Linked DNA regions of Homo sapiens. The protein of the gene in region 1 purifies or fractionates together with the protein of each later gene. This does not show direct contact. Each region holds a gene or a part of one and is shown on either strand. Other genes may lie near its edges. The genes, in order: CLEC12A, MAN2A2, STX8, IKBIP, STX18, VAMP4 and PBXIP1.

Region 1 (3,500 bases):
AGTTTATTTATTCAATGAACTTATTCAATTATTAAAAAGTTCAATTATTCAAAAGTTATCTTTTGAGTGCCTTGTATTTATTAGACATTATCCTGGGTGCTAACAATATCAAAGTGAGCAAGATGTACAAGTTCCTGTTTTCACAGCTATAAATTTTAATTGTAGGAGGAAATAGATAAATAGATATATAAGTGAGACAGGGAGAAAGAAAGAAAGGGAGAAAAGATCTCAAATTTGGCGATGTTGTGCAGAGATTTAAAACTAAGCTGTTATAGAGAGCAGGCAGTTCAAATCTTATGAATAGGAACCAGCATGCAAAATAAGTAGGAAGAACATTACAGGTAGCAATTACATGAAGTTCAAAGACAATAATTTAAGGAAAAGATTTCTATTTGAAAAACAGAATATATTCAGAGGGGCAGAAGAATTGTGGCCAATGTGAAAAATGATGTTAAAGGTTTTATTTGTTTTCTTTTGTTTTGTTTTTAAAATAACAAGGAGGAGACATTATTTACAGCCTTTTCTAGCCAGAATAAGTTAGATTTTTGGGGAAACCACTGGAAGAATTTAATCTAGGAGGGCAAAATAACAGAGTTGTTTTATCAGTAAGAAATCTGTTACAGTATGACATGTGAAAGAGAACAGAAGTTTGACTAGCTAGTACTAGGGAATTTGATGACCCATGGATAAATTAAGTATACATTTCTAAGCTAAAATCTATTGCAAAAATTTCTGAAATTTTTCTTTAGAGAAAGTTGGTAGATATGCACATTTGTAGGCAGTATCTCATAGTGATAAAAAGCAAAACACCATCTTTAGGGTTAGCATGTGTATTAGTCCATTTTCACATTGCTAATAAGACATACCCAAGACTGGGCAATTTATAAGGAAAGAGAGGTTTAATGGATTCACAGTTTCACGCGGCTGGGGAGGCCTCACAATCATGGTGGAAGGTGAAAGGCACACCTCATATGGCAGCAGACAAGAGAAGAAAGAACTTGTGCAGGGAAACTCCCCTTTATAAAACCATCAGATCTCATGACACTTATTCACTATCACAGGAACAGCACGAGAAACACCCCTACCATATGATTCAATTACCTCCCACGAGGTCCCTCCAACAACACGTGGAAATTGTGGGAGCTATAATTCAAGATGAGATTTGGGTGTGGACACAGCCAAACCATATCATTCCACCCTGACCTCTCCCAAATCTCATGTCTCACATTTCAAAACCAATCATGCCTTCCCAACAGTCCCCAAAAGACTTAACTCATTTCATCATTAACTCAAAAGTCCACAGTCCATCTGAGACAAGGCAAGTCCCTTCCACCTATGAGCCAGTAAATTCAAAAGAAAGTTAGTTACTTCCTAGATACAATGAGAGTACAGGCATTGGATAAATACGGTCATTCCAAATGGGAGAAATTGGCCAAAACAAAGGGGCTACAGGCCCCATGCAAGTCCAAAGGGCACCAAATCTTAAAGCTCCAAAATCATCTCCTTTGGCTCTATATCTCACATCCAGGTCATGCTGATGCAAGAGGTAGGCTCCCATGTCTTTGGGCAGCTCTGCTCCTGTGGCTTTGCAAGGTACAGTCTCCCTCATGGCTGCTTTCATGGGCTGATATTGAGTGTCTGCAGCTTTTCCAAGTGGACAGTGCATGCTGTCAGTGGATCTACCATTCTGAGAGCTGGAGGACGGTGGTCCACTTCTCACTGCTCCACTGGACAGTACCCCAGTGGGGACTCTGTGTGGAGCTTCTGACCTCACATTTCCCTTCTGCACTGTCCTAGCAGAGGTTATCCATGAGCACCCCATGCCTGCAGCAAACTTCTGCCTGGACATCCAGGCATTTCCATACATCCTCTGAAATCTAGACAGAGGTTCCCAAAACCCAACTCTTGACTTCTGTGCACTCAAAGGCTCAACACCACATGGAAGCTACCAAGGCTTGGGGTTTGCACCCTCTCCGAAGCCATGACCTGAGCTGTACCTTAGCCTCTTTTAGTCATGGCTGGAGCAGCTGGGATGCAGGGCACCAAGTTCCTAGACTGCACACAGCAGAGGGACCCTGGGCTCAGTCCATAATACCATTTATTCCTCCTAGGCCTCTGGGCATGTGATGGGAGGGGCTGCTGGGAAGACCTCTGATATGCCCTGGAGTCATTTTCCCCATTGCCTTGGCGATTATCATTTGGCTTCCCATGACTTTAGAAATTTCTTCAGCTGGCTTGAATTTCTCCTCAGAAAATGGGATTTTCTTTTATTTATCATTGTCAAGCCACAAATTTTCTGAACTTTTATGCTCTGCTTCCCTTATAAAACTGAATGCTTTTAACAGCACCCGAGTCACGTCTTTAATGCTTTGCTGCTTAGAAATTTCTTCTGCCAGATATCCTAAATCATCCCTCTCAAGTTCAATGTTCCACAAATTTCTAGGGCAGGAGCAAAATGCTACCAGTCACTTTGCTAAAACATAACAAGAGTCACCTTTGCTCCCGTTCCCAACAAATTCCTCATCTCCATCTGAGACCACCTCAGCCTTATCACCATTTTTGTCAAAGCCATTCAAGAAGTCTCTAGGAAGTGCCAAACTGTCCCACATTTTTCTGTCTTCTTCTGAGCCCTCCAAAGTATTCCAACCTCTGCCTGTTGCCCAGTCCCAAAGTCTCTTTCAGATTTTTGGGTATCTTTACAGCAGCGCCCTACTCTATTGGTACCAATTTACTGCATTAGTTCATTTTCACACGACTGATAAAGACATACCCACAACTGGGTAATTTATAAGTAAAAAGAGGTTTAATGGACTCATGGTTCCATGTGGCTGGAGAGGCCTCACACTCATGGTGGAAGGTGAAAGGCACATCTCACATGGCCACAGACAAGAGAGAACTTGTGCAGGAAAACTCCTCTTTATAAAACCATCAGATCTCATGAGACTTATTCACTATCACAAGAACAGCATGGGAAAAACCCGCTCCCATGATTCAATTACCTCCCACCATGTCCCTCCTACAGCATGTGGGACTTATGGGAGCTACAATTCAAGATGAGATTTGGGTGGAGACACAGTCAAACCATATCAGTATGTTTTGGTTTGAATTCTGGTTCTGCTGCTTATTGCTTGTGAAACCTCGGGAAAATTATTTAACACCTTTTAACATCTCTGTGTCTGAGTTTCAATATGGTTAAAGCATGGGAGACAGAAAGACTGCAAAGTATCAGACACTAAATAATTTAATATTTATAATGCAATTAGAACAGAACTGGCACAGAGAAAACACTTGAAAATTGTATTTAAATATATATTTATATGTGTATTTAATGAGATGAGGCTGTCTGGAGAGAGAGACAATTTTAGAAGAAAAATAAATATTACTATTTTTGACATTTTAAGTTTAAAATGAGATTAGAACTCCTTATGGAAATGTGAAAGTGGCACATGTATTTTCTAGTCTTGAGATTCAGGGAAAGGTCATACAGAGATATTGGGGAG
Region 2 (3,500 bases), on another chromosome or scaffold:
GAAACCCCATCTCTACTAAAACTACAAAAAATTAGCTGGGTGTGATGGCAGGCACCTGTAGTCCCAGCTACTTGGGCAGCTGAGGCAGGAGACTGGCGTGAACCCGGGAGGCGGAGCTGGCAGTGAGCCAAGATCGCGCCACTGAACTCCAGCCTGGGCAACAGAGTGAGACTCCATCTCAAAAAAAAAAAAAAAAGGGGGGCACCCTGCCCGAGTTGGGAACCCAGGGCACGGTCTCACGGGAAGGGATGGGCTGCAGCACTGTGAGGCCCCTCCCCAGTCAAGTGCCCCTCACACCTGCACATGGAGGTTAGGCCTGCTGTTGAAGAAGTCAAAGAGCCGTTGGTAGTTGAAGAACTGGGCATCCCACTCCTGGGGCTTGTCATATCGGAAGTCATCTCCAAGAGGCACCAGGAGGACGTTGCTTCGGAACAGCTGGGACTTCTTCCGGTATTGGTCCAGAAGCAGGGCTGCCCTGGGGCAGGAAAAAAAACATGGGCCCACCACGAAGTCTCATCAGTAAAAGAGCACCACGCACAGCCATCCCGCCAGCAAGCCCCTAGAAGACATCCCATCCACCAAGGAGTGGTTCAGCGCAAACAGACACCTCCTGCACATGAATCCCAGCCCCAGGGGAGTCCGGTGCTCTCTGGGCAGTTCTGACAGCTGACATGTTATTTTTTATGCTAGGCTGTTGAGATCTTTTGGGATCCTGGTTCTGACACTCCCGCCTCATTTTGCCCACCAGTTAGCGATGCAGCACCAAAGTGAAGGGTCTGGACCCCGGAGCCATATCACACCAGCTCCACAAGTACTAGCTCAGTGACTGTGGGCAAGTAACCTCTCTGAGCCTCCATTTCTAGCAAAATAAGGATAACATCCGTAGGTACCCATATAATGTTATGAGAATTAAAATGGATTGAATGGGCCGAGCGCAGTGGCTCACACCTGTAATCCCAGCACTTTGGGAGACCGGGGCAGGCAGATCACCTGAGGTCAGGAATTCAAGACCAGCCTGGCCAATATGGTGAAACCCTGTCTCTACTAAAAATACAAAAATTAGCCGGGTGTGGTGGTGCACATCTGTAATCCCAGCTACTCAGGAGGCTGAGGCAGGATAATCACTTGAACCCAGGAGGCGGAGGTTGCGGTGAGCCGAAATTGCACCACCGCACTCCAGCCTGGGTGACAGACTCCATCTCAAAAAAAAAAAAAAATTAAATTAAATAAATAAAATAAAATCAATGAATGAATATTTGTTAAACACTTAGAATAGTGCCTGGTACATAATGGGAACTATATATAAACATTTCTTTTCTTTTCATCCAAATTATTGGCAAAATCAGTAGAAAAACAGCCCTGTGGCACATCAGCAGAAGCCCTTTCCTACTTTAATTGGCATGTTATAAATATCACAGTCCAAAGAGTCAACTAATCTACTTAGCGGCGCTGGCCCAGCTTGTACTTTTCTACTCTGTTCTCATGAGAGGATTCCTCAAATACCACTTTCCCCTAACTTATCAGTCTAGTAAGCCTTTCAAAGGAGAAAATGGTTACCTTTCAGGGCCTGTTCTTGTAAACCTAGGCCAGCCTCACTGATCACAACTGCTGCTTTAAGAAAAGTCACGCCCTCATAGCCCTAGATTCTTGCCTGGAATCGCCATTTAGACTTCTGGAAACAAAAGACCACTTTATTTCCCTTTTGGTCACGTTTCAACTCTTGGACATCAGGGAGAAATCAGAGCATTGCAACATAAAAACCAATCCAACTTGTCGTATTCTTAAGGTTCTGACTAAATTGCTGTTTGGATCAACTCTTACCTAACACTTTCCCCCGGGGCCTGATTTCAGCAAGAGTGCTATCTTTAGGGGTCCCTAAATTCTCTCAAAAGGGACAGGTCTGTTTTCTCAGAGGCTGGAGGCTATCTCGTGGGACTGAATGTGGATCTGAACAGGATTCTCGTGGTTGACTTAAAGCCAAGTCAGAACACTGGCACTAAGTGAAGGCACATGAGCCTGAAGTTTGTAACATACATCTAACCTGGGAATCCTTCACCTCTAAGTTGTCAGCTGGCCCTGGCAGTTTGTTAGGGCATCAAGAAGTACTCATGTGAGAACCTAAAAGCATTCTGTGAAAGGTGGTTGCAAGAGCCATTCCAGTTTTTCAGGAGACTTAGTAAGGAGCTGCTGCTGCAGAGGCTAGGAGCCTCAACTCACCACCTGAGCCCACCCTCCACGTGGCACGGCCCAGACCAGAGCCAGGCCTCCCGATTCCTCTGTGAAGTGAAAGGGCTGGAAGCAGATACCTCTCTGCCACGTTGGCCTCTGTGATGGCCCGGGGTGGCACCTTCCAAGGGCAGTTGATGCGCCCACCAGGCAGGCGTTTGAAATCAAATTGGCAGCAGATCTTGGGATCTGGGCCACAGGTATGGGGGACGTCATAGCTGTAGAAGGGCATCATGTGACAGAAGATGTCTGTGCTGGAGTCCGAGTCTGCAGGAGACACACCACGTGGTCACCACCAGCAGGCAGCCTCTGGACGCCAGGGGGGCAAGGATCTGTTCAGGCTAAAGGCAGCCCTGATAGACCGCGAGGCTGTAACTGGACCTAGGGCTGGAGAGAGTGTGTAGGCCAGGGAGAAAGACATGAGGGGCTCCCTCAGGGGACGGGCACACAGGGCACGCTGAAGCCCTTGGGACAGCAGGCCCTGTAGAGGCCAGAGGTCAATATGGCCCTCCCCTAACCAGAGGGTGCGACCATTTCTGGCAGTCCACACCAGTGCCTGCAGGTCTGCTCTGAAGAACAGTGGGGGTCTTAGTTCTGATATCCCTGCTGTTCCCCAGTGAAGACTATGCTGCAGTAACCCCCTCTACCCTACCCGGCCTTACCCCATGTCTGCCTCCACATGAACTCTAGGCTGTGGGTGGCAGCAAAGTGCTTCTTGATGGCATAGTGCACTCTCTGAATCAGCATGCTGGTGAGGTTGGCACGGCGCAGCAGGTAAGGCATGGTGGAGCTGTATCCAAAGGGGTCCACTGCCCAGCCAGAGCGGGGGGTTGCACCTGGGCAGGGCATGGAAGCCAGAGAGGCCCTGAACACACCTCAGGGGCTGGCCCCCCGGCCTTCCAGGTGCTGGGACCCCAGCTCTTGTCCTGGTAGTGAGTGGAGAGATGATATCACACCAGGCCCACATGGTGGGATCTGCCTAGAAAGGAACCACCCCCTGCCGATCCCTGTGCCTTACAGCCCCTGCCTGTGCCTTACAGCCCAGGGGGCAGACCCCCATGCCTGGGCCTGGACTTACCAAGATTTCTCTCCAGCCACTGGTGTCCTTCGATGAGCTGGTCAATCAATGCAAAGTAGTGGGAATTGGCCTCATCTGGCATCACCCAGCCTCCTGTCGCAATCTCCAGCTGCCCGTTTCCCACCAGCCTATAGTTAAGGACTCACACTCAGGACGGAGCAGGACACTCTGCCCAGTCCTGCCAACCAGCAAATGT
Region 3 (3,500 bases), on another chromosome or scaffold:
GAGCTCTAAAGATGAGTCTAATGTTCATCTCTTTGTTGAATTGGTCAGAAGGTCGTGTCCTGGACAAGATGATCTTCTCAGCTTGGACAGAATGCAGACAGGTGGGGAGAGGAGAGGAGCTACTTGAGAGGAGAAAAATCCTGAAAACATGGGGACTGAGGTGGAAATCATGTGTTTCCTGTTCCTTAGACAGCGAGACCAACTGGTCTCGTGCAGAAAGGGCACATGGATTATTAGAGGGAGTAAGGTTAAGATTGACAAATCAGAATGTGTTTATTCTGTTATGAATGCTACATTATAGTCACAAAATTGGTATTGAAACCCTGCATGTGTTTCTGTCTCTGAGCAACCAAATACTCCTTTTTTTTTTTTTTTTTTTGAGACAGAGTCTTGCTCCGCTACCCAGGCTGCAGTGCAGTGGCGCCATCTTGGCTCACTGCAACCTCCGCCTCTCAGGTTCAAGCGATTTTCCTGCCTCAGCCTCCCAAGTAGCTGGGATTACAGATGTCTGCCGCCAAGCCCGGCTAATTTTTTTTGTGTTTATTAGAGACAGGGTTTCATCATGTTGGACGGGCTGGTCTGGAACTCCTGACTTCAGGTGATCTGCCCGCCTCAGCCTCCCAGAGGGCTGGGATTACACACATGAGCCACTGCGCCCGGCTCCAAATACCCTTTAATGGGAAATTATATGGTCTTTTTTTAAAACAACAACAACATTGTAATCTGTAGTCGCAACATTGTGTCTGCTTGAGAAATAATATTTGTACCTTTGGGGTCACGTAGCCTCTGAGACAAACTTTGTCCTAATAAAAAGGCCGCTGTTCGGCCTTCTGTTTTTGAAATTTAAGAACCTCATTTATTACCAACTTCTTTTAGGATTATTAACTCAAACATCTCTTGGAGGATTAGTACAAATATTATGTTCTCCCATCATCTCTATAACAGGCTGTAATTCTGAGGACCAAGCTTGTGCCTTATTCATCCTTGTATCTCGTCCAGCACTGAATACAGTTCCTGGCATAAACTAATGATGCAATAAATTGTGTTTGAATTGAATTTTCAAAGCATTCAAGGCTGGCCACCTCTGCACTTGTGGGAGTAATTTGCATTTGAGCTGCATGTTTTGAGATATATCATGCATTTAATATTGTTCTTTAGGTCCAGCCTGATGAGTGAAGAGGCTAAGCGAGGAGCACCCAACCCTTGGCTCTTTGAGGAGCCAGAGGAGACCAGAGGCTTGGGTTTTGATGAAATCCGGCAACAGCAGCAGAAAATTATCCAAGGTACTAAATATCCTGAGGAGTGTGGGCTCAGAAACCTTGCCAGAATTTTTTTTTTTTTTTTTTTGAGACGGAGTCTTGCTATGTCGCCTAGGCTGGAGTGCAGTGGCGTGATCTTGGCTCACTGCAACCTCCACCTCCCGGGTTCAAACGATTCTCCTGCCTCAGCCTCCCGAGAAGCTGGGACTACAGGTGCGTGCCACCATGCCCGGCTAATTTTTTGTATTTTTAGTACAGACAGGGTTTCACCCTGTTAGCCAGGATGGTCTTGATCTCCTGACCTCATGATCTTCCCACCTTGGCCTCCCAAAGTGCTGGGATTACAGGTGTGAGCCACCGTGCCCGGCCACCAGATTTTCTACTGGAGCCTTGTTTGTTCCTCATCCCCATTGAAAATTGGAGTGAAAACTGCTGGTCTTTTAAAGCTTTTGGTGTGTGCCTCAGGATACCTGAGGAATAGACAGTTGCTGTCACTCATCTCGGTGGCTCATGGAAGTGGTGATTTTCCATTGGGCAAGAGCAGAGAGAGCAGATCTGAATCTAAGTCCAAGCAAATTTGATGCTTATGCTCTTTACTTTAGCTTCACGACTGGGAATTAGTCTCCAAACACAAGACTCCATTTTATTTTTTAAATTATAAAATATGTCAGTTTGGCTTTTCTTTTTTATCTTTTGCCCTGTGGCTTTTTAACTTTTTTTTTTTAAACTTTCTTATATTTTTAAAATTTCAGAAGTATGCATGATTGTTATACAAAGTGTAAACAACATAGGAATGTATAAGATGAAAGCCCTCCATATTGTTTCTCCAATCTCAAACTGGAAACAGATTAATATGTATTTCCTTAGACCTTTTGTATACATTCACATACATATATTCAATATAAATATACTTATTTTACATAAATGGAATCATGAGATATTTAGCTCTCTCCATATATATATATAATTCCACACCTTTTTAAAACTTAGTATGTGTCGGCTGGGTGTGGTGGCTCACGCCTGTAATCCCAGCACTTTGGGAGGCTGAGGCAGGAGGATCACCTGAGATCAGGAGTTCGAGACCAGCCTGGCCAACATGGTGAAACGCCGTCTCTACTAAAAATAAAAAATTAGCTGGGTGTGGTGGCACGCACCTGTAGTCCTAGCTACTCAGGAGGCTGAGGCAGGAGAATCGCTTGAACCCAGGAGGCAGAGGTTGCAGTGAGCCGATATAGCATGTCACTGCACTCCAGCCTGTGCAACAGAGTGAGACTCCATCTCAAAGGAAAAAAAAGAAAAAACCACTTAGTATGTGTTATGGACTTTTTAAAATGTCAGTATGTACAGATACATTATTCTTTCTAATTCTGCTTTTTAAAATCAGCTTTATTGCCAGGCCTGGTGGCACATGCCTGTACTCCTGACACTTTGGGAGGCCAAGGCAGCAGGATGGCTTGAGTGTAGGAGTTTGACACCAGCCTAGGCAACATAGTAAAATCCCATCTTTAAAAAAATTAATGAATAAAAAGGAAGAGGGAGGAGGAGGAGGAGAAAATAAATCTAAAGTCAGCTTTATTGAGATGTAGTTGATATGATCATAAATGGCCCATGTTTGAAGTATATGATTTGATAAGCTTTGACATATGTATATGCCTGTGAAACCATCACTGCAATAAAAATAATGAACCTAATTGTTATTCCCAAAAGTTTTCTTCATGCCTCTTTGTAATTCTTCCTATTGTTCCTCCCTGCCATGCCCAGACAACTGCTGAACTTCTTTCTGTCACTATAAATTAGTTTCCATTTTCTATAATTTTATATAAATAGAACTATACAGTATGTACCTTTTGGGGAAGAAGGGGCTCTGGCTTCTTTGTCTAAGCATAATTATTTTAAGATTCATTGAACTGGTTATGTGTATCAGTATTTCACTCTTTTTTTTTTTTTTTTTTTTTTGAGACAGAGTCTGGCTTTGCTGCCTAGACTGGAGTGCAGTGGTACGATCTCAGCTCACCACAACCTCCACCTCCTGGGTTCAAGCAATTCTCCTGCCTCAGCTTCCCGAGTGGCTGGGATTACGGGCGCCCGCCATCATGCCCAGCTAATTTTTTTTGTATTTTTAGTAGAGATGGGGTTTCACCATGCTGGCCAGGCTGGTCTCGAACTCCTGACCTCAAGCGATCCACTCGACTCGGCCTCCCAAAGTGCTGGGATTACAGGCATGAGCCACCGCGCCCGGCC
Region 4 (3,500 bases), about 89 Mb from region 1:
AAGCTCCGCCTCCTGGGTTCACGCTATTCTCCTGCCTCAGCCTCCCGAGTAGCTACGACTACAGGCGCCTGCCACCACGCCTGGCTAATTTTTTGTATTTTTAGTAAAGACGGGGTTTCACTGTGTTAGCCAGGATGCTCTCGATCTCCTGACCTTGTGATCCACCTGCCTTGGCCTCCCAAAGTGCTGGGATTACAGGCGTGAGCCACCACGCCCGGTATTTTTTTTTTTTTTTAGATGGAGTTTTGCTCTTGTTGCCCAGGCTGGAGTGCAATGGCACGATCTCGGTTCACTGCAACCTTTGCCTCCTGGGTTCAAGCGATTCTCCTCCTCAGCCTCCCAAGTAGCTGGGATTAAAGGCACCTGCCACCACGCCCCACCAATTTTTTAATATTTTTAGTAGAGATGGGGTTTCACCATGTTGGCTAGGCTGGTTTTGAACTCCTGACCAGTGATCTGCCCGCCTTGGCCTCCCAAAGTGCTAGGATTACAGGCATGAGCCACTGTGCCCAGCCCCAAGGTGGTCTTGAATTCCTGGCCTCAAGTGATCCTCCCCTCAGCCTCCCAAAGCGCTGGGATTACAAGTGTGGGTCAACATGTCCAGCCTAGATGCAGCTTTTATCAGTTTCTTTTGACAGATTTTCATGTGGTAGGTACTGGTTTAACTCATGCAAAGATGAGTAAAGCACTGCCCTTGTTCACAATTCACAGCCCACCAAATAAGATGGTGTGATATCTGTAATAGATGCATGCACAAGAAATATTTTAGAGGAGGACAAAGTGAAAAATTTAGAACAAGATCTTTGATCTCTACTGTTTTTCACAAGGCCATGATTGGGTAATATCTAGAAAATAGGTGTTTTTATGCTGAAATGTAGGCGAAACAAGAGTCGTCTATAAAAAGTATTTTAAAACTGAAATGTAGAAGAGTTGACTGATAAAAAGCAGTGGAGTAGAAGAGAGAAGTGATAGTAATTAGAAGTTGCAAAATAGCAGGAGGTGTGAAAAGAGGTATGAAAATAGAAAAAAGCCATTGCCAAAGTGACAATAGATCACAATCAGTGCAGAGTGTATAAACTGCACAATTGGTTATACTCAGTGATGTGACTCGTATAGGTGTACTTGAGATGTCACTCTAAAATTGGAGTTTATTCTTCATTATGGGTGGAAGCCCAAAAAGCTATCTCAATCTTCAAAACAACAAATCAACATCTGTTTATACAGGATTTGAAATGAGCAAGCATAAAAGAATTGTCTTGGATCCAATACCATTTTGTCTACTTTAACTCAATTCTTTAGGCTCAGAAAAAAACACTTGAAATTCTTTGCATATTGAGTCATCAAAACGCAATGGAGCAGAACCATAAGTACCTGCCTAAACACAGTCCTGAGACAAGTGGTTCAAAAGCTTTGCTACATATTGTAATAACCTGGCAGCTTTAACAAATCTGATGCCTGGGTCTCACAAAGATTCTGATTTAATTGGCTTGGGATGTGGCTTGGATGTTGGAAACTCAACAGCTTCTCAGGTAATCTAAGTGCACAGCCAAACTTAGAACCATACTGACTGACCATGTTTTGTGAAATTCATTTCCACTGAAAGGCAATCATTTAAAGATCCCAAGGATTAATGGAGAGGTGAAAGACTTTTCTGAGTAAATGCAGTTATCTGAACTTTGTGCATCCTTGCAAAAGTGGTAATGCTTTGAATTCATAAATGGCATCATTAGGCTAACCGTAGCTACAAAACTGTCCAAAGCTAAATTAGACAAATGTTTACAATACTGGAGGAAATACATTTCTTTTGATGATGCTGGCTAATTTCTATTATACGGGATCCCAGGTTACATTATTAGCACAGATTGACTTTTCTCCTGTGTTTAAATTAATAGGAACCTTTAAAGCTTCTGGTTATTAGAAAACACTATTATCCTAATTCTCTGAGATGGAAGGGTGAACATAATTCTTTTTTCATTGGCTGTTTCATTTCTGGCTTTTAGGATTTTTTTTTTTTCCCCCAGAGTATTGGATATCTAAGACCAGCAGATAGAGACCTTATTAAGAAAGAGACCACCCTAAAGAAATAAGAGTTGCCCTCCTCACGCCTTCCTGTCCCTCCCTGCCAGGGGGGAAAAAAAAAAAGTAAAAGAAGAAACACAGTTCATTTCAGGGACTAGTTTTATTATCCAATACTCCACCATAGATCTATACTATAGATTAGCGAGTTTATTCAGAATGAAATCATTATTATAAGAGACTTTCGTATGAAGGTTGATTCATTACAAAAAATACATTAATGAACTTTCTCAGAACTTCTTTTCAAATTCAAGCTTTAAACACAACCTGTGTCATGTTAGTGGAAATATCATCTCTGATAATTAGTAGTTTTTTTTGATTAGCCTCTTACTAAAATAAAAAAAAATTCATCCTTGCTACATGTGAACGGTGCATATAAGAAAAAAGTACAAAGCTGACTCAGCACTAGTGATGAAAAAAATGAAGTGATATGTGCTGTGCTGCGTTAAAATATATTTTATTTTTCCCTTATTTGTGCCAGACACTATTCTAAGTACTTGATAAATATTAATTCATTTAACATTAAAGAAGATGATTGATTTTTCTTTCTTTTTGTTTTTTTTGAGATGGAGTCTCACTCTGTCACCAGGCTGGAGTGCAGTGGCACGATTTTGGCTTACTGCAACCTCTGCCTCCCGAGTTCAAGTGATTCTCTTGCCTCAGCCTCCCGAGTAGCTGGGACTACAGGCGTGTGCCAACACACCCAGCTAATTTTTGTATTTTTAGTAGAGATGGGGTTTCACCATGTTGGCCAGAATGGTCTCGATCTCTTGACCTCATGTTCCGCCTGCCTCAGCCTCCCAAAGTGCTGGGATTACAGGCGTGAGCCACCGCGCCCGGCTTTTTTCTTTCTTTCCTTTTTTTGAGACAGGGTCTCGCTCTGCTGCCTAGGCTGGAGTGCAGTGGCATGATCTTGGCTAACTGCAACCTCCACCTCCCAGGTTCAAGTGATTACAGGCGTGAGCCACCGCACCCAGCCTAGATGACTGATTTTCTAGAAGTCAAGAAAATATGCTGAGAAAGCTGCTTCAGATCTGAAAAACTAAGCTTTCAAACTGGCATCCATGTTAGGGTATAAGGTCCTTTATTTCCTTTTTATGAGTCAGGGGCATATTCTAGTGAGAGCAGTTCCCAGTCTTCCCATTTAGATGAGAGTGAAAAACAAGCAATTAGGGTCTGCTAAAGGGTATACCTTCAAGTAGAAGGAAGAAAAGAACTATAAGTAATTCTGGACTTGGGGATTTCTATTTCTAGGATCTTGGCCTTTTGTTGGGGATTAATATCGAATGGAGGCAACGAATCATACTGATTAGGTGGGTGACTGGACTGCCTTAGCTCTGCCATTTACTAAGCTGTATAACCACTTTGGGCAAGTTAAATAACTTTGATGTTTCCTCATCTGTGAAGTGGGGATAATACCTTAT
Region 5 (3,500 bases), on another chromosome or scaffold:
ATGAGGCTCCCAGCAAGCACCAACTTGCTAGCCATGTGTGTGGCCTCCTTGGAAGTGAACCCTCCAGCCCTGGTCAGCCCTTCAGATGACTGCAGCCCTAGTTGCCTTCTAACTGCACCCTCCTGAGACACACAGAGCCAGAACCACCCAGCCAAGGTGTTCCCAAATTCCTGACCCCAGAAGCAGTGATCAGTAATAAATCTCACTGTTTCAAGGCACTAAGTTTTATGACTCAGCTGTAGTAACCAGAACAATTAAAAAGATTGATAACAGTGACTTTTGAAAAAATTTTTTGTTAAATTTTGTAGAGGACCATTTCCTAAATAGTCTTTTTGAGAAAACTGCTCTCAAAAAACTCTGTGAAGAGAGTGTCTGCAATCAGGTTATTTGCAAATACCATCCTTTTTGGAAATTCAAAATGTATTTGAGCATATTAAAGGCTCTGAAAACTTATATAGTGAAACACCTTTCTAGCTTTGACTCAGCTTTCTCAGACTGATTCGACCACAGAAGTCCTTTCCCACAGCCCAGGATGGGTAGAATATACCCCACATGGAGCAGTTGTTACGAGCATGGGCTTCAGAGCTAGGTTCCCTGAGGTCATGTCCCAGCCCAGCCATTTGCTGACTGTGACCTGGGCAAGTTTCCTAACTTCTCTACACCTCAGTTTCCTCCTTTGTTAAAAGGTTGTTAATACTAGTACCTACCTGATGGGGATATTCGAAATTAAATAAATTTATCCATACAAATTGCTTAGAAAAAATGTCCACTATATGAGCCATTAACAAATGTTAGCTGGCATTAGTAATATCACCCTAATATGCATTTACATTGTTCCTTTAATTACAGTCTCTCTGCCTAACAATATGGAATTTATCCTAGATAGCACTCTGCCTATAATTTTATAGCATTTATGTAGATTCTAGTAAAGCTATTACAAAGCCTGTTATTGCATAACCTAAACGTTTTCTTATTAACCAGTTACTTGTATTTATAATGCACTCATTCATTCAACATATATTTATGCAATGGAATACCAGGCACTAATCCAGAATCTGGGATCTAGGAGCAAGGCTGACAACCAACAGATAAATAAACAGGGGGATTATAGACTGTGATAACTGCTATGGAGAAAACAGATGCAGAGGAGTGGGAGGCGGCCTTTCCTTCACAGAAGAGTCAGAGGTGGCCTCTCTGAGTAGGTGAAATTGAGCTGAGCCCTGTAGATGGGAAGGAAGACGATGCCCTGGGAAGAGCCCGTGGGGAAGAAACAGGGGAATGCCAAGTGCAGAGGACTCAGTCCTGAAACAAGTCTGTGCCTTCAAGTGGGTATTTAAGGACTTGTGCTTTCAGAGCTAACTTATATTAAGATGTGACTTAGAACATATACGTGTGTGGGTATAGGTATATATATGTGTGTGTATGAGTATATATGTTGGGGGGTATGTGTGTGGGGGTGTGTGTGTGTATATATATGGGTAGGGGGTATATATGTGTGTGTTTCTGTGTGTGTATGTGGGAGTATATGTGTATGTATATGTGGGGGTATATATGAGTGTGTGTGTGTATGTATATATGTGTATGTAGATATATGTGTGTGGGGGAGGGTATATGTGGGGGGTATATATACATATCTGCACATATATGGTGTGTGTGTGTATGTAGGGGGTATATATGTGAGTGGGGGGTATATATATGTAGTATATGTATGTGGGTGTGTATATATGGTATGTGTATATGTGTGGGTATGTGTGTGTATATATGTGTGTGTGTTTATGTGGGTGAGTATATGTGAATATATGTATGTGGTGTGTGTGTATATGTGGGGGATATACATGCATGTATGTATATATATGGGGTATGTGTGTATGTAGGGGGTTATATATGTGTGGGGGGTATATATATGTGGTATATATATTGTGTGTATACATGTGGGGGTATGTGTGTGGGGGTATATGTGTGGTGGTATATATGTGTGTGGGTATATATGTGGGAGGGTATGTATATATGTGTGCATGGGTATATATATGTGGTATATATGTGTGTGTGTGGTGTGTGTATATGTGTGGGTATACATGTGTTGGGGGTATATATGTGTGTGGGGGTATATATATATATATGAATATATGTATAATATGTATTATATATTATTATTAATAACATACTCAGCAATCTTTTTGCATTAGTGTCAACTACTGGGTAAGCATCAATCCAGCTTCCTGGGTTTGTTGAGTGCGGTGTGTCAGTCTATGGAGCGTATTCAGCACATACCAACTGCAGCCTCCCCCTGCATGCTGGTCACTGTGCCGTGGCTGCAAATGCAGAGGGCATGCACAATCTCTACCCTGCAGGCAATAATGCCAGTGTTAAGTGCCCCAGTGGAGGTGTGTCCGGATGGCCACTGGGCCCAGAGGCAGTGACTGCTCCCCAGTACAGGGACACAGAGCAAAAGCGCAGGGTCACATGTGACTCCTTCTGTTTTCAAAAAGGAATCCTGTTATGGAAATAAAATACCTGCCTGCTAATTATTTATTTTTAGATCTAAGCTGGAACCAGAACCAAATACAAAGACAAGAGAATCCACATCTTCTGAGAAAGTTTCACAGAGTCCTTCAAAAGACTCTGAAGAAAACCCTGCCACTGAAGAACGTCCAGGTACGAATTGAGATGAAAATCTCACCTTGCATTTCTTCCTTGTGACATGTTGGCAAGAGTACAGCACAGGAACGAAGTAGCACAGTCTCAGACATGTTTTGGTGTTTGTATTTGCATAAAGCAAAGGAAGCAGGAGGCGGCAGCCTTTGTGTCTGTCACAGTTGATCTTCGTGAGTGCCACAGAGGCAGGGGGTGCATTCACCCAGTCACCTGGGAGCTGGCGGGGTCCGGGAGAAAGGGCCTGCTGGAGGGGTGAGGCCGGGAGCTGTCTGCCTCAGGAGCCCTGTGTGCCGGCCTCAGGAGAGGCAGCATTGCCTCCCTGGCAGCCATGCCCTGCATGTCAGCTCTGAGCTGCCAGGCCTGCATCCGGGTAGAGTGTATAACCTCAGCAGCCTTGCACAGCCAGTCAAACCAACAGGACAAAATGCAAATCTGAATTGACGTGCTGCCTATCACCACAGATACTAGAGGGCCCATGGCTTAGAATAGTTCCTGATGCACAGGAGATGCAGAAGAAATACAGGGTCTCCATGAAGTCCGAAAATGTAGGGGGACATACACAGTGTGGTCATGGATGTCTGCGATCTGTGTGTCTGGCTGGTACCCCTGCGTAGGGATGCCTGCATAGTTTGCCATATCTCAAAGGCAGAGTGGAGCAGGGTTCTTTGTGTGAATCACAGGGTGATGGCGTGCTGGAGCCAGGAGAGACCTGGGAGTCCCCTTTAGCATCCTTCTCCGTAGTCTCATGGCAGTTCTTATTAACTCTTGTCTTCCAGATGCTAGGCATGGTCCTGGACATGTCACAGAAATTACAGGTTGAGTATCTCTTATCTGAAATGCTTGGG
Region 6 (3,500 bases), on another chromosome or scaffold:
GAAAATCAATGTGCAAAAATCACAAGCATTCCTATACACCAATAACAGACAAACAGAAAGCCAAATCATGAGTGAACTCCCATTCACAATTGCTTCAAAGAGAATAAAATACCTAGGCATCCAACTTACAATGGATGTGAAGGACCTCTTCAAGGAGAACTACAAACCACTGCTCAACGAAATAAAAGAGGACACAAACAAATGGAAGAACATTCCATGCTCATGGATAGGAAGAATCAATATTGTGAAAATGGCCATACTGCCCAAGGTAATTTATAGATTCAGTGCCATCCCCATCAAGCTACCAATGACTTTCTTCACAGAATTGGAAAAAACTACTTTAAAGTTCATATGGAACCAAAAAAGAGCCCACATTGCCAAGACAATCCTAAGCCAAAAGAACAAAGTTGGAGGCGTCACGCTACCTGACTTCAAACTATACTACAAGGCTACAGTAACCAAAACAGCATGGTACTGGTACCAAAACAGAGATATAGACCAATGGAACAGAATAGTGCCCTCAGAAATAATACCAGACATCTACAACCATCTGATCTTTGACAAACCTGACAAAAACAAGAAATAGGGAAAGGAATCCCTATTTAATAAATGGTGCTGGGAAAACTGGCTAGCCATATGTAGAAAGCTGAAACTGGATCCCTTCCTTACACCTTATACAAAAATTAATTCAAGATGGATTAAAGACTTAAATGTTAAACCTAAAACCATAAAAACCCTAGAAGAAAACCTAGGCAATATCATTCAGGACATAGGCATGGGCAAGGATTTCATGAATAAAACACCAAAAGCAATGTCAACAAAAGCCAAAATTGACAAATGGGATCTCATTAAACTAAAGAGCTTCTGCACAGCAAAAGAAACTACCATCAGAGTGAACAGGCAACCTACAGAATGGGAGAAAATTTTTACAATCTACCCATCTGACAAAGGGCTAGTATCCAGAATCTACAAAGAACGTAAAGAAATTTACAAGAAAAAATCAAACAACCCCATCAAAAAGTGGGCGAAGGATATGAACAGACACTTCTCAAAAGAAGACATTTATGCAGCCAACAGACACATGAAAAAATGCTCATCATCACTGACCATCAGAGAAATGCAAATCAAAACCACAATAAGATACCATCTCACACCAGTTAGAATGGCGATCATTAAAAAGTCAGGAAACAACAGGTGCTGGAGAGGATGTGGAGAAACAGGAACGCTTTTACACTGTTGATGGGAGTGTAAACTAGTTCAACCATTGTGGAAGTCAGTGTGCGATTCCTCAGGGATCTAGAACTAGAAATACCATTTGACCCAGCCATCCCATTACTGGGCATATACCCAAAGGATTATATCAAGGGAACCACCCCCGATAATTCAACATAGGACCTTTTCTATTTTCCCTAAGTGTCGGCTGGTCTGAGTAATAAAGGGAAAGACTACAAAAGAGAGAAATTTTAAAACTGTGTGTCTGGGGGAGACATCACGTGTCGGCAGGTTCTGTGATGCCCCCCTACGCCGCAAAACCAGCAAGATTTTGTTGTGATTTTCAAAGGGGAGGGAGTGTACTAATAGGGTGTGGATTATAGAGATCACATGCTTCACAAGGCAATAAAATATCACAAGGCAAATGGGGGCAGAGCAAGATCACACGACTGGGGCAAAATTAAAATTGCTAATGAAGTTTCGGGCACGCACTGTCATTGATAACATCTTATCAGGAGACAGGGTTTGAGAGCAGACAACTGGTCTGACTAAAATTTACTGGGCAGGAATTTCCTCGTTCTAATAGGCCTGGGAGACCAGGGCTTATTTCATCCCTTATCTGCAACATATAAGACACACATTCCCAGAGCAGCCATTTTAGAAACCTCCCCTAGGAATGCATTCTCTTTCTCAGGACTGTTCCTTGCTGAGAAAAAGAATTCAGTGATATTTCTCCTATTTGCTTTTGTAAGAAGAGAAATATGGCTCTGTTCTGCCCAGCTTTCAGGCAGTCAGACCTAATGGTTATCTCCCTTGTTCCCTGAACATCGCTGTTATCCTGTTCTTTTTTCAAGGTGACCAGATTTCATATTGTTTAAACACACATGCTTTACAAACAATTTGTGCAGTTAATGCAATCATCACAGGGTCCTGAGGCGACATACATCCTCAGCTTACGAAGATGACGGGATTAAGAGATTAAAGTAAAGACAGGCACAGGAAATCACAAGAGTATTGACTGGGGAAGTGATAAATGTCCATGAAATCTTCACAATTTATGTTCAGAGATTGCAATAAAGACAGGTGTAAGAAATTATAAAAGTATTAAATTGGGGAACCAATAAATGTCCATGAAATCTTCACAATTTATGCTCTTCTGCCATGGCTTCAGCCAGTCCCTCCATTCGGGGTCGCTGACTTCCCACAACGGATTATAAATCATGCTGCTATAAAGACACATGCACACATATGTTTATTGTGGCACTATTCACAATAGCAAAGACTTGGAACCAACCCAAATGTCCATCAGTGACAGACTGGATTAAGAAAATGTGGCACATATACACCATGGAATACTACGCAGCCATAAAAAAGGATGAGTTCATGTCCTTTGTAGGGACATGGATGAAGCTGGAAACCATCATTCTGAGCAAACTATCGCAAAGACAGACAACCAAACACCGCATGTTCTCACTCATAGGTGGGAACTGAACAATGAGAACACTTGGACACAGGGTGGGGAACATCACACACCGGGTCCTGTCATGGGGTGGGGGGAGGGAGGAGGGATAGCATTAGGAGATATATCTAATGTAAATGATGAGTTAACTGGTGCAGCACACCAACATGGCACATGCATACATATGTAACAAACCTGCACACTGTGCACATGTACCCTAGAACTTAAAGTATAATAATAAAAAATAAAAGAAAATACTTAAGGATCAATTTGACAAAGAAAAAAATACAACATCTGGACACTGAAAACTACAAAACACTGCTGAGAGAAATTAAGTACCCAAATAAATAAAAAGATATACTATGCTCATGGGTCAGAAAACCAAATATTGTTAAGATGTTAATTATCCCCAAATTCATCTATAGGTTCAATATAATCTCAACCAAAATTCTAGCAGGCTTGCTGGAAACTGACAAGATGATTCTAAAATTTATATGAAAATGCTTAGAGCCTCCAATAGCCAAAAGAACTTTCAAAAGGCAGTGCAAAGTTGAAGGATATACACTACACTACCTCACAACTTACTATAAAGTCGTAGTACTCAGGATAGTGATTACTATGGTATTGATGTAAGAAAGACACATAGAGTCCAGAAATAGAGCCACACATATATAGTCAATAAATTTTTATTGTGGTAAATATATATAACATATATTTACTATTTTAACCGTTTTTAAGCATACAGTTCTGTGGCATTAAGTAATTCACTTAATGAACTGTCATCACCATTCATCTCTAGAACTTTTTCATCTTTCAAAACTGAAACTCT
Region 7 (3,500 bases), on another chromosome or scaffold:
CAGGTAGCAGCTGGTGGGGCAGAAGCCCACTGAGGAGGGAGAAGGGGGTTGGCAGGATGGGGAACTGAGTGGCTAGAGAAGGGATGGCAAAAATTTGTCAAAGGCATCTCTGAGAGTTCCAAGACGTAGCGACTTTGTATATTAGAGCCACCAGGAGGGGAGGAGGAGAGAAGCTCAGTTTCAACATGTTGAGTTTGAGGTGCCCTTGAGGAACCCAGCTGGGAGTAAGGAGTTGACCTTGGGGATGACGCTGGAGCAAGATAATGGACTGGGGCTCACTGGCAGAGGGAAGGCAGGTATGAGCAGACGGGCACCAGGCTCTCAGAGCCCTGGCCTCCTGTTGAGGTGTCTTTGTTGACAGCTGGGGGACCTTGGGCATGCCATTTCACCTCTCTGTCCTCTCCTGTAAAACGGGCGTCATGATTTTTGCCTTGTAGGGGGGACCATGAGAATAAAAATGTTTTGAAAATAGCAAAGACATAACTAAGGTGAAGCATTACTCTCAGAGGGATAGTTGGAGCCACGGGGCGGGTGGCAGGCCAGGGCCCTATGGAAGGGGAGTAGGCAGAGGGAGGAGGCCGAGGCTGTGTGGCCAGGGCTGGATGTCCAGGCTGAGAGTGCCCTGGAGACAGGCTGTCTGTGGTTGGGGTGGGTTGGGCTTCTGTGAGCAGCTGCTGGGAGACGGGTGTCGGGGGAGTGTCAGGGGCCAGCGGGAAAGGCCAGAAAGGCTTGAGAGATGTAAGTAGTTGTCCAGTTGAGAGGGCAGCTGCAGGGACACCCTGGGAGGCATAACTGTGACCCGTGGGCACCCAGGGGACTTTGTTCTCTTGCCTTCTTCCCACCCTTAATATTATAATATCTGGGTTGTTCATCTGTGGGGAAGGAAGTGCTGCTGATCTTGATGGGAGGGAAACGTAGGCTCTAGCTCACCTTCTGGAGGCGGGGCACCAGGTTTGTACTGCAACCAGTGCCTTGGTCTGGTGGTGCGGCGCTGTGTAGCGGAAACCTGGCCCCTGAAAGTTCCTCCTCGCAGTGAGTGAGGCTGGGGAATGCCGAGCACTTGGTGCTGCCCCGAGCCCCTTTTTGGGCCAGCTCATGACTGAATGTGTGTGTTTCTGGGATGTGGGCTGGGGCCCCATTCTTGGGTGCAGCCCTTCTCCTTGCACTTCTCCTCCCAGAGCCTGCCAGTGGAGACACTGGGCCCGGCATCCAGGATGGACCCAGAATCTGAGAGAGCCCTGCAGGCCCCTCACAGCCCCTCCAAGACAGATGGGAAAGAATTAGCTGGGACCATGGATGGAGAAGGTACTGGGCCCTGCTTAGGACATAGCTTACCGGACAAAGCTATTCTCCATATTTTGGGGTTTCTCAGTTTCCTCAGAGAAAGGGAGGCTGGTTCGTTTTAGTTCCTCCATTAATCTCAGTTGACAAACTCCTTTTCTCATTCCATCCTGGCTTTTTCCTGCCTCTTCCAACCTGGTAGGGGCCCGTGGGATGGACAGAGGGCTGCAAAGGAAATTCAGCTGGGGCAGTGGGTTTTTCTGCGCCTTTTCTCCTACCGCAGGGACGCTCTTCCAGACTGAAAGCCCTCAGTCTGGCAGCATTCTAACAGAGGAGACTGAGGTCAAGGTGAGGAGATTTGCTGTGGGAAGGAAGGGAGGCGGGGAGGGCTAGCAGCTGCTCACTGCTGCATCTGCATTAGGGCACCCTGGAAGGTGATGTTTGTGGTGTGGAGCCTCCTGGCCCAGGAGACACAGTAGTCCAGGGAGACCTGCAGGAGACCACCGTGGTGACAGGCCTGGGACCAGACACACAGGACCTGGAAGGCCAGAGCCCTCCACAGAGCCTGCCTTCAACCCCCAAAGCAGGTGAGAGTCTTCCTTGCCTCTCCTGTCACTCTCCTTCTAGAAGGTATGGGAGAGGGATCAGCCATCACTACTGAGCACATGCTGTGGTCCAGGCCCTAGGGCTGAGCAGCTTGGTGCTCTCCTTTCTCACCACTACCCCTGGGACGTTGAGGCCCAGAAAGGTTGAATGACTTGACCAAGGTCACACTGCTGGTAAGGGGCAGGGCCCACATCTGGTTGACTCTTTCCTCTCTGCCATGGGGACCTCCTCTTTTCTTGCTTCCAGAATTCAACCCTCATTTCTGGAGTCCCTTCCTTGTGCTGGCCCTGGGCCTGGGCAGAGGGAAGATGGTTGGTTACCGCCTATGTAAGCGGCAGATCAGACTGAGCCAAGGTGCATATCAGACCTAAGAGTGGTACAGAACTGTAATTAAGGTACTCCCAAAGGAAGGAGAGGCCATTCAGTCAGGGGACTGGTTGAGGGCAAGGGAGAGGCTGGGACAGTGAGAGGTGACATTTGAGTGGAGCCCTGAGCACAGAGTAGGCTTTTGGTACGTAGGGCAGGGAAAAGAGAATGTTTTAGGCCAAGGCTGCAGCATCAGCAAAGGAGTGGGGACCACCTGTCTTGTGCTAAGGAGCTCTGTTCCAGGCTTGTGGCAGAGGAGTGTAGGAATTGGTCCCTGTTGAGTGACAGGATGGAGGGCCTGGGGGCCATTTAGGAGGCAACTGCAGTGGTCAGGCAAAGATGATGCAGACCTGGGCCAGGCATGGTGGCTCGTGCCTATAATCCCAGCACTTTGGGAGGCTGAGGTAGGAGGATTGCTTGAGCCCAGGAATTCAAGACTGCAGTGAGCCATGGTCATCCCACTTCACTCTAGCCTGGGCAACAGAGGGAGACCCTGTCTCTAAAGGAAATAAAAATAGGCGGCAGGGTGCAGTGGCTCACGCCTGTAGTCCCAGCACTTTGAGAGGCCAAGGTGGGTGGATCACCTGAGGTCAGAAGTTTGAGACCAGCCTGGGCAACATGGTGAAACCCCGTCTCTATTAAAAATACAAAAATTAGCTCGGTGTGGTGGTGCACGCCTGTAGTCCCAGCTACTTCCCAGCTACCTGGGAAGCTGAGGCAGGAGAATCGCTTGAACCTGGGAGGCGGAGGTTGCAGTGAGCCAAGATTGTGCCACTGCACTCCAGCCTGGGTTACAGAGGTAGACTCTGCCTCAAAAAATAAAAATAAATAAAATAAAATAAAATAAAATAAAATAAATAAAAATAAAAATAGGCTGGGTGTGGTGGCTCACACCTGTAATCCTCACACTTTGGGAGGCACAGGCAGGAGGGGCTGGGCTAGGGTAACCCACCTAGGCCAGGCGTCTGTCCTAGCATCCTCCCCCAAAAGGAATGTTTCCTATTTACCCACACATCCTGACCCTCCCCTCTCCCACTATAGTCAGGGCGTCTTCCCAGTTCTTGGTTCACATCCCTTGTGCTAAGGTTTGGGCCAGGGCTGGCATACCTGTTCCACATGGTACATGAAACATACATGGTATCACCTGTGATTGATTGGTGTGGTCTGCCTGGAGCACTGTGTGGAAAAGGATTTAAAGAACATGCCAGGTGCCATGATCAGTTAACACTGTTCCAGGTATGGGAGGT

What was found.
Region 2: the proteins of CLEC12A (region 1) and MAN2A2 purify together in Homo sapiens (affinity purification with mass spectrometry; 3 studies listed by BioGRID and IntAct, with this or other methods). This does not show direct contact.
Region 3: the proteins of CLEC12A (region 1) and STX8 purify together in Homo sapiens (affinity purification with mass spectrometry; 3 studies listed by BioGRID and IntAct, with this or other methods). This does not show direct contact.
Region 4: the proteins of CLEC12A (region 1) and IKBIP purify together in Homo sapiens (affinity purification with mass spectrometry; 2 studies listed by BioGRID and IntAct, with this or other methods). This does not show direct contact.
Region 5: the proteins of CLEC12A (region 1) and STX18 purify together in Homo sapiens (affinity purification with mass spectrometry; 3 studies listed by BioGRID and IntAct, with this or other methods). This does not show direct contact.
Region 6: the proteins of CLEC12A (region 1) and VAMP4 purify together in Homo sapiens (affinity purification with mass spectrometry; 2 studies listed by BioGRID and IntAct, with this or other methods). This does not show direct contact.
Region 7: the proteins of CLEC12A (region 1) and PBXIP1 purify together in Homo sapiens (affinity purification with mass spectrometry; 3 studies listed by BioGRID and IntAct, with this or other methods). This does not show direct contact.

Annotation. Positions count from the first base shown.
Region 1 is NC_000012.12:9,974,409-9,977,908, reverse strand, and holds part of CLEC12A (C-type lectin domain family 12 member A), read right to left. Parts: intron 1-3,500. UniProt on the Homo sapiens protein: Myeloid inhibitory C-type lectin receptor that acts as a negative regulator of myeloid cell activation. Myeloid cell inhibition is required to limit proinflammatory pathways and protect against excessive inflammation.
Region 2 is NC_000015.10:90,906,302-90,909,801, reverse strand, and holds part of MAN2A2 (alpha-mannosidase 2x), read right to left. Parts: intron 3,433-3,500; coding exon 3,305-3,432; intron 3,063-3,304; coding exon 2,889-3,062; intron 2,494-2,888; coding exon 2,307-2,493; intron 476-2,306; coding exon 298-475; intron 1-297.
Region 3 is NC_000017.11:9,502,821-9,506,320, reverse strand, and holds part of STX8 (syntaxin-8), read left to right. Parts: intron 1-1,158; coding exon 1,159-1,283; intron 1,284-3,500. UniProt on the Homo sapiens protein: Vesicle trafficking protein that functions in the early secretory pathway, possibly by mediating retrograde transport from cis-Golgi membranes to the ER.
Region 4 is NC_000012.12:98,634,789-98,638,288, forward strand, and holds part of IKBIP (inhibitor of nuclear factor kappa-B kinase-interacting protein), read right to left. Parts: intron 1-3,500. UniProt on the Homo sapiens protein: Target of p53/TP53 with pro-apoptotic function.
Region 5 is NC_000004.12:4,437,549-4,441,048, reverse strand, and holds part of STX18 (syntaxin-18), read left to right. Parts: intron 1-2,539; coding exon 2,540-2,655; intron 2,656-3,500. UniProt on the Homo sapiens protein: Syntaxin that may be involved in targeting and fusion of Golgi-derived retrograde transport vesicles with the ER.
Region 6 is NC_000001.11:171,721,566-171,725,065, forward strand, and holds part of VAMP4 (vesicle-associated membrane protein 4), read right to left. Parts: intron 1-3,500. UniProt on the Homo sapiens protein: Involved in the pathway that functions to remove an inhibitor (probably synaptotagmin-4) of calcium-triggered exocytosis during the maturation of secretory granules.
Region 7 is NC_000001.11:154,949,600-154,953,099, reverse strand, and holds part of PBXIP1 (pre-B-cell leukemia transcription factor-interacting protein 1), read left to right. Parts: intron 1-1,178; coding exon 1,179-1,305; intron 1,306-1,564; coding exon 1,565-1,629; intron 1,630-1,702; coding exon 1,703-1,868; intron 1,869-3,500. UniProt on the Homo sapiens protein: Regulator of pre-B-cell leukemia transcription factors (BPXs) function. Inhibits the binding of PBX1-HOX complex to DNA and blocks the transcriptional activity of E2A-PBX1.